Linked DNA regions of Homo sapiens. The gene in region 3 interacts genetically with the main gene of each other region. Each region holds a gene or a part of one and is shown on either strand. Other genes may lie near its edges. The genes, in order: PTK6, CKM and CHD1.

The links.
Region 1: changes in CHD1 (region 3) and PTK6 together harm fitness more than expected from each alone (negative genetic interaction), as found in Homo sapiens cells (one large-scale study listed by BioGRID).
Region 2: changes in CHD1 (region 3) and CKM together harm fitness more than expected from each alone (negative genetic interaction), as found in Homo sapiens cells (one large-scale study listed by BioGRID).

The regions. Positions count from the first base shown.
Region 1 is NC_000020.11:63,527,374-63,530,961, reverse strand, and holds the end of PTK6 (protein-tyrosine kinase 6), read left to right. Parts: intron 1-34; coding exon 35-216; intron 217-730; coding exon 731-884; intron 885-1,238; coding exon 1,239-1,426; 3' UTR 1,427-2,961; downstream 2,962-3,588. UniProt on the Homo sapiens protein: Non-receptor tyrosine-protein kinase implicated in the regulation of a variety of signaling pathways that control the differentiation and maintenance of normal epithelia, as well as tumor growth.
Region 2 is NC_000019.10:45,316,338-45,319,987, forward strand, and holds part of CKM (creatine kinase M-type), read right to left. Parts: intron 3,395-3,650; 5' UTR 3,377-3,394; coding exon 3,184-3,376; intron 1,643-3,183; coding exon 1,488-1,642; intron 1-1,487. UniProt on the Homo sapiens protein: Reversibly catalyzes the transfer of phosphate between ATP and various phosphogens (e.g. creatine phosphate).
Region 3 is NC_000005.10:98,922,501-98,926,150, forward strand, and holds part of CHD1 (chromodomain-helicase-DNA-binding protein 1), read right to left. Parts: intron 1-3,650. UniProt on the Homo sapiens protein: ATP-dependent chromatin-remodeling factor which functions as substrate recognition component of the transcription regulatory histone acetylation (HAT) complex SAGA. Regulates polymerase II transcription.

The DNA.
Region 1 (3,588 bases), on a different chromosome or scaffold from region 3:
CTGACCCCAGGCTCTGCTCCACTCCCCTCTGCAGACTCTGATGAGAAAGTCCTGCCCGTTTCGGAGCTGCTGGACATCGCCTGGCAGGTGGCTGAGGGCATGTGTTACCTGGAGTCGCAGAATTACATCCACCGGGACCTGGCCGCCAGGAACATCCTCGTCGGGGAAAACACCCTCTGCAAAGTTGGGGACTTCGGGTTAGCCAGGCTTATCAAGGTAGGGCCCTCAGAGGGCGTGGCTGGGGTCGTGGCCGGGGCGTGGCCGGAGGGCTGGGGGCTTCCTGTGTGTGGAGCTGGGGACTCGGCTGGGAGCAGGATGCGGCCCCTGCCCTCGGGAGCCCAGGCTGGGCAGGGAGGTGGGAAGCCACCGTGAGTCCGGTGGGGCCCCCATTCTGAATGGCACGCACAGCAGGGCCCACCACGCAGCCGCTGCCTTGTTCACGTGCCTTGTTCACTGGCCCAGCCCTGGGCCCCTCTGACGGCCTGGGAGCCTCCCAGTTCCCTGTCCCCCGGGCCCTCCGGTCCCCACACACCTGCAATCCCAGGGGAAGTTGGGCTCCTGAAGGTGGTCAGGCCCCAGTGTGGCCTTAGCTGCAGCGGCCGTGCGTGGGTCAGACAGTGGGGTCATCACCGTCCCACTGCTGGGGCAATGCGGCCGCTGTGCCCGTCCATGCTTCGGGGGCAGGGCACAGGCAGCCCCCACGGCCCACTCAGCTCCAGGCTGATTGCAGGAGGACGTCTACCTCTCCCATGACCACAATATCCCCTACAAGTGGACGGCCCCTGAAGCGCTCTCCCGAGGCCATTACTCCACCAAATCCGACGTCTGGTCCTTTGGGATTCTCCTGCATGAGATGTTCAGCAGGGGTCAGGTGCCCTACCCAGGTACTGTCCCCACTGTCCCTGACTGGGCATGAGAGGCAGAGTGGGGGAGGTCCTGGGTAGCCGGCAGGGACGCTGGGGGGTGCCTCCCCCACGGGCTTCAGGGCCCTCCGCGGGCCATCGCCTGAACTCCACACCTGCACCATTCTCTGAGCACCCAGGCTGGTGCCTGGAGCTGCCTGTTGGAGCCCTGTCCAGAGGGAGGTGTTAGCAGTGGACAGTGTGCTGGGTGGCGCCAAGGCATGGCAGCTGAGGCTGCGGGGAAGGCCCCAGGAAGGGGCAGTGGATGGCTGGTGTGGCTTCTTGGGGGAGGGTAGGCAGGTGGGCCCCAGCTCTTCTCATCCCTGTCGGCCGCAGGCATGTCCAACCATGAGGCCTTCCTGAGGGTGGACGCCGGCTACCGCATGCCCTGCCCTCTGGAGTGCCCGCCCAGCGTGCACAAGCTGATGCTGACATGCTGGTGCAGGGACCCCGAGCAGAGACCCTGCTTCAAGGCCCTGCGGGAGAGGCTCTCCAGCTTCACCAGCTACGAGAACCCGACCTGAGCTGCTGTGGAGCGGGCATGGCCGGGCCCTGCTGAGGAGGGGCCTGGGCAGAGGGCCTGGACCTGGGATCAAGGCCCACGCGCTTCCCTGGGGTTTACTGAGGTGATGGGTGCAGGAAAGGTTCACAAATGTGGAGTGTCTGCGTCCAATACACGCGTGTGCTCCTCTCCTTACTCCATCGTGTGTGCCTTGGGTCTCAGCTGCTGACACGCAGCCTGCTCTGGAGCCTGCAGATGAGATCCGGGAGACTGACACGAAGCCAGCAGAGGTCAGAGGGGACTCTGACCACAGCCCGCTCTCTGGCTGTCTGTCTGCAGTGCCCGGCTGAGGGTGGGAGGCAAACACGCCTTGTTCCTGCTCTTCCCAGTTCAGCTTGGTGGGAGAAAGTCATTCGCGTGGCTCGGGACGCTCATGTAAATTTGGTTTTGGTGCTCAAGGGTTCTTTCCTCCCAGGGGCAGGTGTTTCTTTCCTGTTTGTCTTGTGTCTTGAGAGCTTGGCCTTATGACCAGTGAGAACTCTCTCCCTGGTCTCTGCCAGCCCAAGCATCACTGCCCGAGGCGCCAGCTCAGTTTCACCGTCCACGTCCACAAGGGGCTTTTCCCACCTTCACCTTTGTCGCTGGGTCAGTGCTGGAAAGCGCCCCTCACTCCTGCGCTGACAAGGGCCCTTCTCTACTGTCTGTGGGGTGGTTCCGGGCTGGGGGGGCTGCCTCCTTTGCACCTGATTTTGAAGGTGTCTCTTTCATCCATGGTTAAGTCATAAAAAGCTTATTGGTTTTGGTTTTGACTCACCTGAAAGTTTTTTTGGTTTAAAAGAAGAATAGGCGGGGCACGGTGGCTCATGCCTGTAATCCCAGCACTTTGGGAGGCTGAGGCAGGTGGATCACGAGGTCAGGAGATCGACACCATCCTGGCTAACACGGTGAAACCCCGTCTCTACTAAAAAATACAAAAAATTAGCTGGGTGTGGTGGTGGGGGTGGGCGCCTGTAGTCCCAGCTACGTGGGAGGCTGAGGCAGCAGACTGGTGTGAACCCGGGAGGTGGAGCTTGCAGTGAGCCGAGATCGCGCCACTGCACTCCAGCCTGGGCGACAGAGCGAGACTCCATCTCAAAAAAAAAAAAAAAAAAAAGAAAGAAAGAAAAATAATTTTGGGAGTTTCTGGAAAGGTACTAGGATTTCTCAAAAGGATTTGTCTTCTGCCTTGTGAAAGACAGATGTCAGACTAATCAGGCTTATCCGATGTGCTACATGAGATGGAAAGCGTGTGAAATAGTAAGTCACACTAAGTCTTCTGGAGGTTCTATTTACGGGTTTGGTTTTGATATGAATGTTGCAGAAACTCTATAAAATTCCTAGAAATCTGATACGTTATCCTATGATATATATCCTATCTCACATGCTATTCCTAGAAATCTGGTGCAATGTTATCAGTCATAATTTTGGTTATTACATTAAAATGCTGCATGCCACAGAAATAACCAAGTTTCCTTGCCAACCGTGTCACGAATATAATAAACTCTCATCAGATCCTGAGCCATGGCTATCTTAAGTCTTCGGTCATTCACAGTTATTATCTTACTTTGATTTTTTCTGAAAGCTTTGCAATCAGCTAGTCCCAAATTGTTTATTCTTCAAAGAGATTCCTGGGAAGGATTCTGACAGGTGCTCTGGAGCACAGGTTTCTGGTTCAGGTCATAGCCTTGGATTGGGTGCAAATTTCCAGAACTCGAAGGAGGGACCTGGCAGGTCCATGAAAGTTCTGTCCCAGGATCAACCAGAACAAGAATTAATGACATGGGAATGAATGAACTGACGAGGATGTTTACTGTTTAATGACTTTTGTCTGAAGCATTACGGTTCTTTAATATTTTGTTTTCCAGATGTAAGAAAACGTTTTTTGTTTCTGTTTTTGTTTTTGAAGACAGGGTCTTGCTCTGTCACCCAGGCTGGAGCGCAGTGGCGTGACCACAGCTCATTGCAGCCTTGAATTCCCAGGCTCAAGTGATCCTCCCGCCTCAGCCTCCTGAATAGTTGGGACTACAGGAATGCACCACCACACCTGGCTAATTTTAAATTTTTTTTTTTTTAGGAGATTCAGGGTCTTGCTATGTTGCCCAGGCTGGTCTCGAACTCCTGGGCTCTAGCAATCCTCCTGCCTCG
Region 2 (3,650 bases), on a different chromosome or scaffold from region 3:
AAAAAAAATAGAGACAGGGTGTCACTATGTTGCCCAGGCTGGTCTCAAACTCCTGGGCTCAAACAGTCCTCCTGCCTCAGCCTCCCAACGTGATGGGATTACAGGCATGAGCCACCATGCCTAGCTAAATTTTTAGGCTTTTTTTTTTCTTTTTTTTGGGCAGAGACGGGTTCTTGCTATGTTGCCCAAGCTGGTCGTGAACTCTCCTGGCTTCACGTGATCCTCACACCTCAGCCTCCATAAGTGCTGGGATTACAGGTATAGCCACTGCACCCAGCCTTTCTGCCCATTTCTGTTTCTCTTCCTGTCTCCCTTTCTCCCACTCTCCTTGTCTGTGTCTGACTGCAACTGCGTGTGTCTCTCTCTCCCTGTCTCTCCTGCCTTCTCTGATGCTCCCTTCTGTCTCCCTCTGTGTCTCTGCCTCTCCCCCCACCCTTTTTTTTTTAGGCAGAGTCTCGCTCTGTCACCCAGGCTGAATAGCTAGGATTATAGGTGAACACCAGCATGCCTAGCTAATTTTTGTATTTTTAATAGAGACTGGGTTTCACCGTGTTGGTCAGGCTGGTCTCGAACTCCTGACCTTATGATCCGCCCACCTCAGCCTCCCAAAGTGTTGGGATTACAAGCGTGAGCCACTGTGCCCGGCTATGCCTCTTCCTTTTCTACATGCTTTTGTGCCTTTCTTCTCCCTCTCCCTCTCCTTTGTCTGTCTGTCTCCTTGGTTGTCTGTGTCTCCTTGGCTGTCTCTGTGTCTCTCTGTCCCTCTCTCTTTCCTTTTTTTATTTTCTGAGATAGAATCTTGCTCTGTCACCCAGGCTGGAGTGCAGTGGCATGATCTCAGCTCACTGCAGCCTCCATCTCCTGGGTTCAAGAGATTTTCCTGCCTCCACCTCCTGAGTAGCTGGGATTACAGGCACGCGCCACCATGCCCAGCTAATTTATTTTATTTATTTATTTATTTATTTTTTGAGACGAGTTTCGCCCTTGTTGCCCAGGCTGGAGTGCAATGGCACGATCTCTGCTCACCACAACCTCTGCCTTCCAGGTTCAAGCGATTCTCCTGCCTCAGCCTCCCACGTAGCTGGGATTACAGGCATGTGCCACCACACCCAGCTAATTCTGTATTTTTAGTAGAGACGGGGTTTCACCATGTTGGTCAGGCTGGTCTCAAACTCTCAATCTAAGGTGATCTGCCCGCCTTGGCCTCCCAAAGTGCTGGGATTACAGGCGTGAGCCACCGCCGTGCCCAGCCCTTTTTTTTTTTTTTAAAGACAGAGTTTTGCCATGTTGGCCAGGCTGGTCTTGAACTCCTGACCTCAAGTGATACGCTCGCCTCAGCCTCCCAATGTCCCTCTCTCTTTCCATCTCTCTGCTTCTCCACACCTCTGTGTCTCTCTCTGTCTCTGTATTTCTCTGTCTCCCCCCATTTCTCCTGTGATCTCTCTCCTCCTCACCCCTCGGCCCTCCCCTCCTGCGCAGACACCGACCTTGAGGTTTTCATGGTTGAGGTCAGTCTTGTGCTTGTCAGTGGGTTTGTAGCCCCCGTGGCGATCCGAGATGATGGGGTCAAAGAGTTCCTTGAAAACTTCGTAGGACTCCTCATCACCAGCCACGCAGCCCACGGTCATGATGAAGGGGTGACCTGGAGGGGTGGGGGTGAGGTCAGAGCTGCTTGTCCCCAGCAAACAGGGCGTGGGCTTGTGGGCTCAGTGGAGCCTGTGTGGACATGTGTGTCGGGATGGGGGCGGGTACATTCAATACCTCTGGGTGGGAATTGAGAATCATAAGGGTTGGGCACAGTGGCTCATGCCTGCAATCCCAGCACTTTGGGAGGGTGAGGCGGGTGAATCTCTTGAGGTCAGGAGTGTGAGACCAGCCTGGCCAACAGGGTGAAACCCCATCTCTGCTAAAAATACAAAAATTAGCTGGGTGTGGGGCACACACCTGTAATCCCAGCTACTCAGGAGGCTGAGGCATGAGAATTGCTTGAACCAAGGGAGTGGAGGTTGCAGTGAGCCAAGATCACACCACTGCACTCCAGCCTGGGTGACAGAGCAAGACTCTGTCTCCAAAGGAAAAAAAAAAAAAGAGAGAACACTGAGGACTGGTGGGAACTGGGAGGGAAGGCTGGGAGAGGTCAAGGTGGCTGGGAGGGGTCAAGGTGGGAGAGAAGAAAGAGTGCTGGGGGCGGGGTCAAAGGAGAAAGGGGAGCTTCAGAGGGTACATGGTGCTAAAAGCATCAGCACCTCGGAAACATTAGCACCCAAAGTCATGACATCTTAGCCTGAAATGTTAGGATCTCAGGCTACCACCGTACCACAGAGGGTCAGGAGGGTAAGAGACTTGAAAGACCCTCTTGTTTCCCAGTGGAAAAACAGGGGCCAGGAGAGAGGGGCTTCTCCCCGGCATCACACAGTGAGCTGGATGTGAGGGGCACTAGAGCCTCCCCTCCACTCCCAGCTCTCTTCGCCTTGCAATGTCCTTTGAGAAACAACCATAACATTAATAACATCCCCTGTCAGATTCTTTTTTTTTTTTTTTGAGACAGGGTCTCACTCTGTGGCTGGAGTACAGTGGCGCGATCTCGGCTTACTGCAACCTGCACCTCCCAGGCTCAAGCGATCCTCCCACCGCAGCCTCCTGAGTAGCTTGGACCACAAGCCCTCATCACCACACTTGGCTAATTTTTTTGTATTTTTTGTAGAGACAGGGTCTTGCTATGTTGCTCAGGCTGGTCTCAAACTCCTGGCCTCAAGTGATCCTCCCACCTGGGCCTCCCAAAGTGCTGGGATTACAGGCATGAGCCACTGCACCTGGCCCCCCTGTCAGAGCTTGAGCACTCACTTGGTGCCAGGTGCCACTCTAAGCACTGCACAGCCATTGACTTGTGTTTTCACAACGTGGGCGCCCATTTTTCAGATGAGGAGACTGAGGTTCAGGAGGTGAACCGACCTCCTTGGGGATCTCACATTATTCTCGTGCATGTTTATTGCGTGGTTTGCTGAGTACCTCGCACTGTCCCAAGCCTTTATGTATATTAATGCATTGATTCCCACAACAGCCCCATTTTACAGATGAGAAAACTGAGGCCCCCCCCCCTTCAAGGGTGGTGGGATTGGGGCATGGCCGGCAGCCTCCAGAGCCCCCATGTAGCCCCTTCAGTGCTCCACTGGGGAGGCTCACCTGGGTTGTCCACTCCTGTCTGGATGACATCGTCTACAGTGAAGCCAGATGGAGTCTCCTTGTCCCGCAGCTTCTTGTAGAGTTCAAGGGTCAGTACCTTGGCCATGTGGTTGTTATGTTTGCTGAGGTCGGGGTACTCCTCCTCAGGCTTGTAATTCAGCTTGAACTTGTTGTGGGTGTTACCGAATGGCATGGTGGCGGTGTAGGAGACCTGATGGGCAGGGCAGGAGGGGAAGATTGAAGATTAGCTGGCATCTTTTTTCTTCTTCTTCTTCTTTTTTTTTTTTTGAGACGGAGTCTCGCTCTGTCACCCAGGCTGGAGTGCAGTGGCACGATCTCGGCTCACTGCAAGCTCCACCTCCTGGGTTCACACCATTCTCCCGCCTCAGCCTCCCGAGTAGCTGGGAATACAGGCGCCCGCCACCACGCCGGCTCATTTTTTGTATTTTTAGTAGAGACGGGGTTTC
Region 3 (3,650 bases):
GCTAACTGTAACCTGCAAATGCCAAATGAATTCTTTCTTAATTCTATTCCGTTTAATAAACTTTCACAAAAGAAAAAGGAAATTTTGAAGCAAAAATACATTATAGAATTCTAGCCACTAAAAAACCAAAATTTACTTTAAAAAGCTACTTACAATGAATATCAACTTTAGAAACAAAGTATATTTCTAATCTAATTATATTAGGGGCCAGGCACGGTGGCTCATGCCTGTAATCCCCAGTGCTTTGGGAGGCCAAGGCGGGCAGATCACCTGAGGTCAGGAGTTCGAGACCAGCCTGGCCAACATGACGAAACACCGTCTCTGCTAAAAATACAAAAATTAGCTGGATGCAGTGGTGCATGCCTGTAGTCCCAGCTACTCGGGAGGCTGAGGCAGGAAAATTGCTTGAACTCGGTAGGCGGAGGATGCAGTGAGCCGAGGTCATACCGCTGCACTGCAGCCTGGGCGACAGAGCAAGACTCTGGCTCAAAAAAAAGAAAAAAAATTACTCTATATTAATATTCATAGTTATAGAAACTTTAGTTTTTTTTGCAAGAAAATCCCTCTACCTCTAAAGTTCACCTCCTCAGTCTTTTAACTAGGCACAATCTCCCTTCTTTGTAATGTCTTATGACAAAAGCTTCTGGGGAAGGGAGTGGGAATTGAGTGTTAATGACAGTAGAGCATAGTATAGCAGCGGTAAGAAAGAAAATGAAGGCAAAAAAGAAGGTCTCTCTCCTGATAAACTCCAAGGCAGTTGTAAAAACTAGATAACTTGATAACCACACTTTTCAGAAGCACACAAAACCTGTATAGCAGAATTAACAACTCCGAATAATTAAAGAAATATGCTTTGCAATTATTTAAGATGAGTATGCATTGTAAAAGATTCCTTAAATTTGATTTCGCAAGGTTTAATTTTTTTTTTTTTTTTGAGACGGAGTTTCACTTGTTTCCCAGGCTGGAGTGCAATCGCGCAATCTCCGGCTCACTGCAACCTCCGTCTGCCTCCTGGGTTCAAGCAATTCTCCTGCCTCAGCCTCGCGAGCAGCTGGGATTACAGGCCACCACACCCAGCTCATTTTGTATTTTTGGTAGAGACAGGATTTCTCCATGTTGGTCAAGGTGGTCTCGAACTCCCAACCTCAGGTGATCTGCCTGCTCGGCCTCCCAAAGTGCTGGGATTACAGGCGTAAGCCACCGCACCCGGCCACAAGGTTTAATTTTTTTTCACCTGTAGTATCAAATTGGACTTATTACTCCTCCTCGCTTTAGATATGGCAGAAAAATATATAAAATATTGGAACAGGTAAGTAGTCAGAATATACCAGCACATGATCTGTCTGCATATCCAACTAGAAGATTTACTCTCGAGTCTTATCTCCTATTTTATGAATAGTTTGGTTCCTTTGTTTCCTCTAGGTATTTCTACCTACTAACCATTCCATTCCAACTATGAATAAGAAAATGTGAGGCCGGGTGTGGCAGCTCACACCTGTAATCCCAACACTTTGGGAGGCCAAGGTGGGAGGACTGCTTGAGCCCATGAGTTCAAGACCAGCTGAGGCAATATGGTGAGACCTCATCTCTACAAAAAATTTTAAAATTAGCTGAGTGTGGTGGCATGCACGCCTTTCAGGATGCTGAGGTGGGAGAATCGTTTGAGCCCAGGAGGTGGAGGCAGAGGCTGCAGTGAGCTGAGACTACACAACTGTACTCCAGCCTGGGTGACAGAGTGAGGCCCTGTCTCAAAAGAAAAGAAAAGAAAAAAAAAATTGTGGGTGGACAATATGACTCTTCTATTTACTTAACTATAGTCAGTAGTCAACATACCTATAGAGATTTGAATCAAAGCTCAGATTCAAAAGTCTTTTAATTAAACCTCAACTCTGGTGATTCTAGTAAAACTTTACTGTTTGAAACTTTACGATGCACTTTGTAATTAATTAAAATGAAACTTCAATATCAGTTCAATCCTTAGAGTTGAGGCAATCATATGAGTTTTAATTAATGCAGAGATAGCATCAACTCAGGTTGTATAACTCCTAGACCAATACTTGTTCAAGTAATAATGCTGCTTTCCATAACTGTTCCTTATTTTATTCTCTATGATGTTCTTGCTTATCCAAACAGTATGTATGAAAGCTGATAAACTAAAGTATAACTAGCAAGGTCAGAAAATTCCAAGTGTCAGGCCTGGCGTGGTGGCTCATGCCTATAATCTCAGCACTTTGGGAGCTCGAGGCAGGTGGATCACTTGAGGCCAGGAGTTCGAGACCAGCCTGGCCAATGTGGCGAAACCCCATCTCTACAAAAAAAATACAAAAATTAGCTGGGAGTGGTGGCTAGCGCCTGTAATCCCAGCTACTCCGGAGGCTGAGGTAGGAGAAACACTTGAGCCTGGGAGGTGGAGGTTGCAGTGAGCCGGGATCACACCACTGCACTCCAGCCTGGGCGACAGAGCAAGACTCTGTCTCAAAAAAAAAAAAAGAAAAAGAAAAGTCCAAGTTTCAGATCAAATACAAATACCACTATTTAGTTTTCTATCTAACATTTTTTCTTAATCTTCCTAATTGCCAAAACTTTCCTGTTTCTTGTCCACCCCCATGTCTCCATCACTGTAATTAATGTTTTTTTTATATAGTATCCTGTGTTACACAAAACATGCTGGTTACAATAAGCAAATATTCAGTGCTCATTATCTCAGAAAATATTTTAAGCCCTTTACATGAAGCATCTCAATCCTCAAATTTTTTTTAAATTTTATTTTTTATAAATTACAGACAAAGTCTCACTATGCTGCCTAAACTGGTCTCCAACTTTTGAGTTCAAGTGATCCTCCTTCCTCAGCCTCTCAAAGTGCTGGGATTACAAACAGGATCCAACAAGCCCAGCCGTGAACTTTAAATAAGATAAACAATAGTTTAATCCCCTCTTTATGGGGCAAAAATCAGAGCCTCAGAGATTAAGTAATTTGCCCTAATTCACACAACTAATAAGAGGTAGAAATAGGGTAAGCAAACAGTTTGACTCCAGTGCCCACATTCCTAATTTCTATATATGATAATGCATATAACTACATGGATTGTAAACTAATGTGCAGATAACTCAAAATTTGAGAGCTACAGAATTTAAAGAATCTTCTTTGCAAACACTTGACCCAAGCAAGAACTCTTAACTCCTTCACAGATAATTAAAACTCCAATCTGAAAATAAAAAAGGGCCACAGTAATATTTCAACAAATGTCTGGCTCAGCACTGTCTAAAACTTTCTCCAGTGATAGAATGTTTTCTATGTGCTGTCCAATATGGTAGCCACTAGCCACATGTGATTATTCAGCACTTGAAATATATCTAGTATGACTAAGTAAATTCTGAATATTTTGTAATTGAGTTCAAATAGCCACATGTGGCTAGTGGTTACCACACTGGACAGTACAGGTATAGAAGACAAAATGCCAGAAAAAGATGAGTGAAAAAATTTTTATTGCCTTCATCTAGAAATTTCACTAACAGTCAAAACAATTTAAATCTATTATACATGCTCCAGCTTAATTATTAGCTCAAATATAAACTTCCAAATAGATTTAAGTAAACAAAAACTTTCTATATTTAAGATCTACTGTGTATCTGAATGAAAAATATAATTA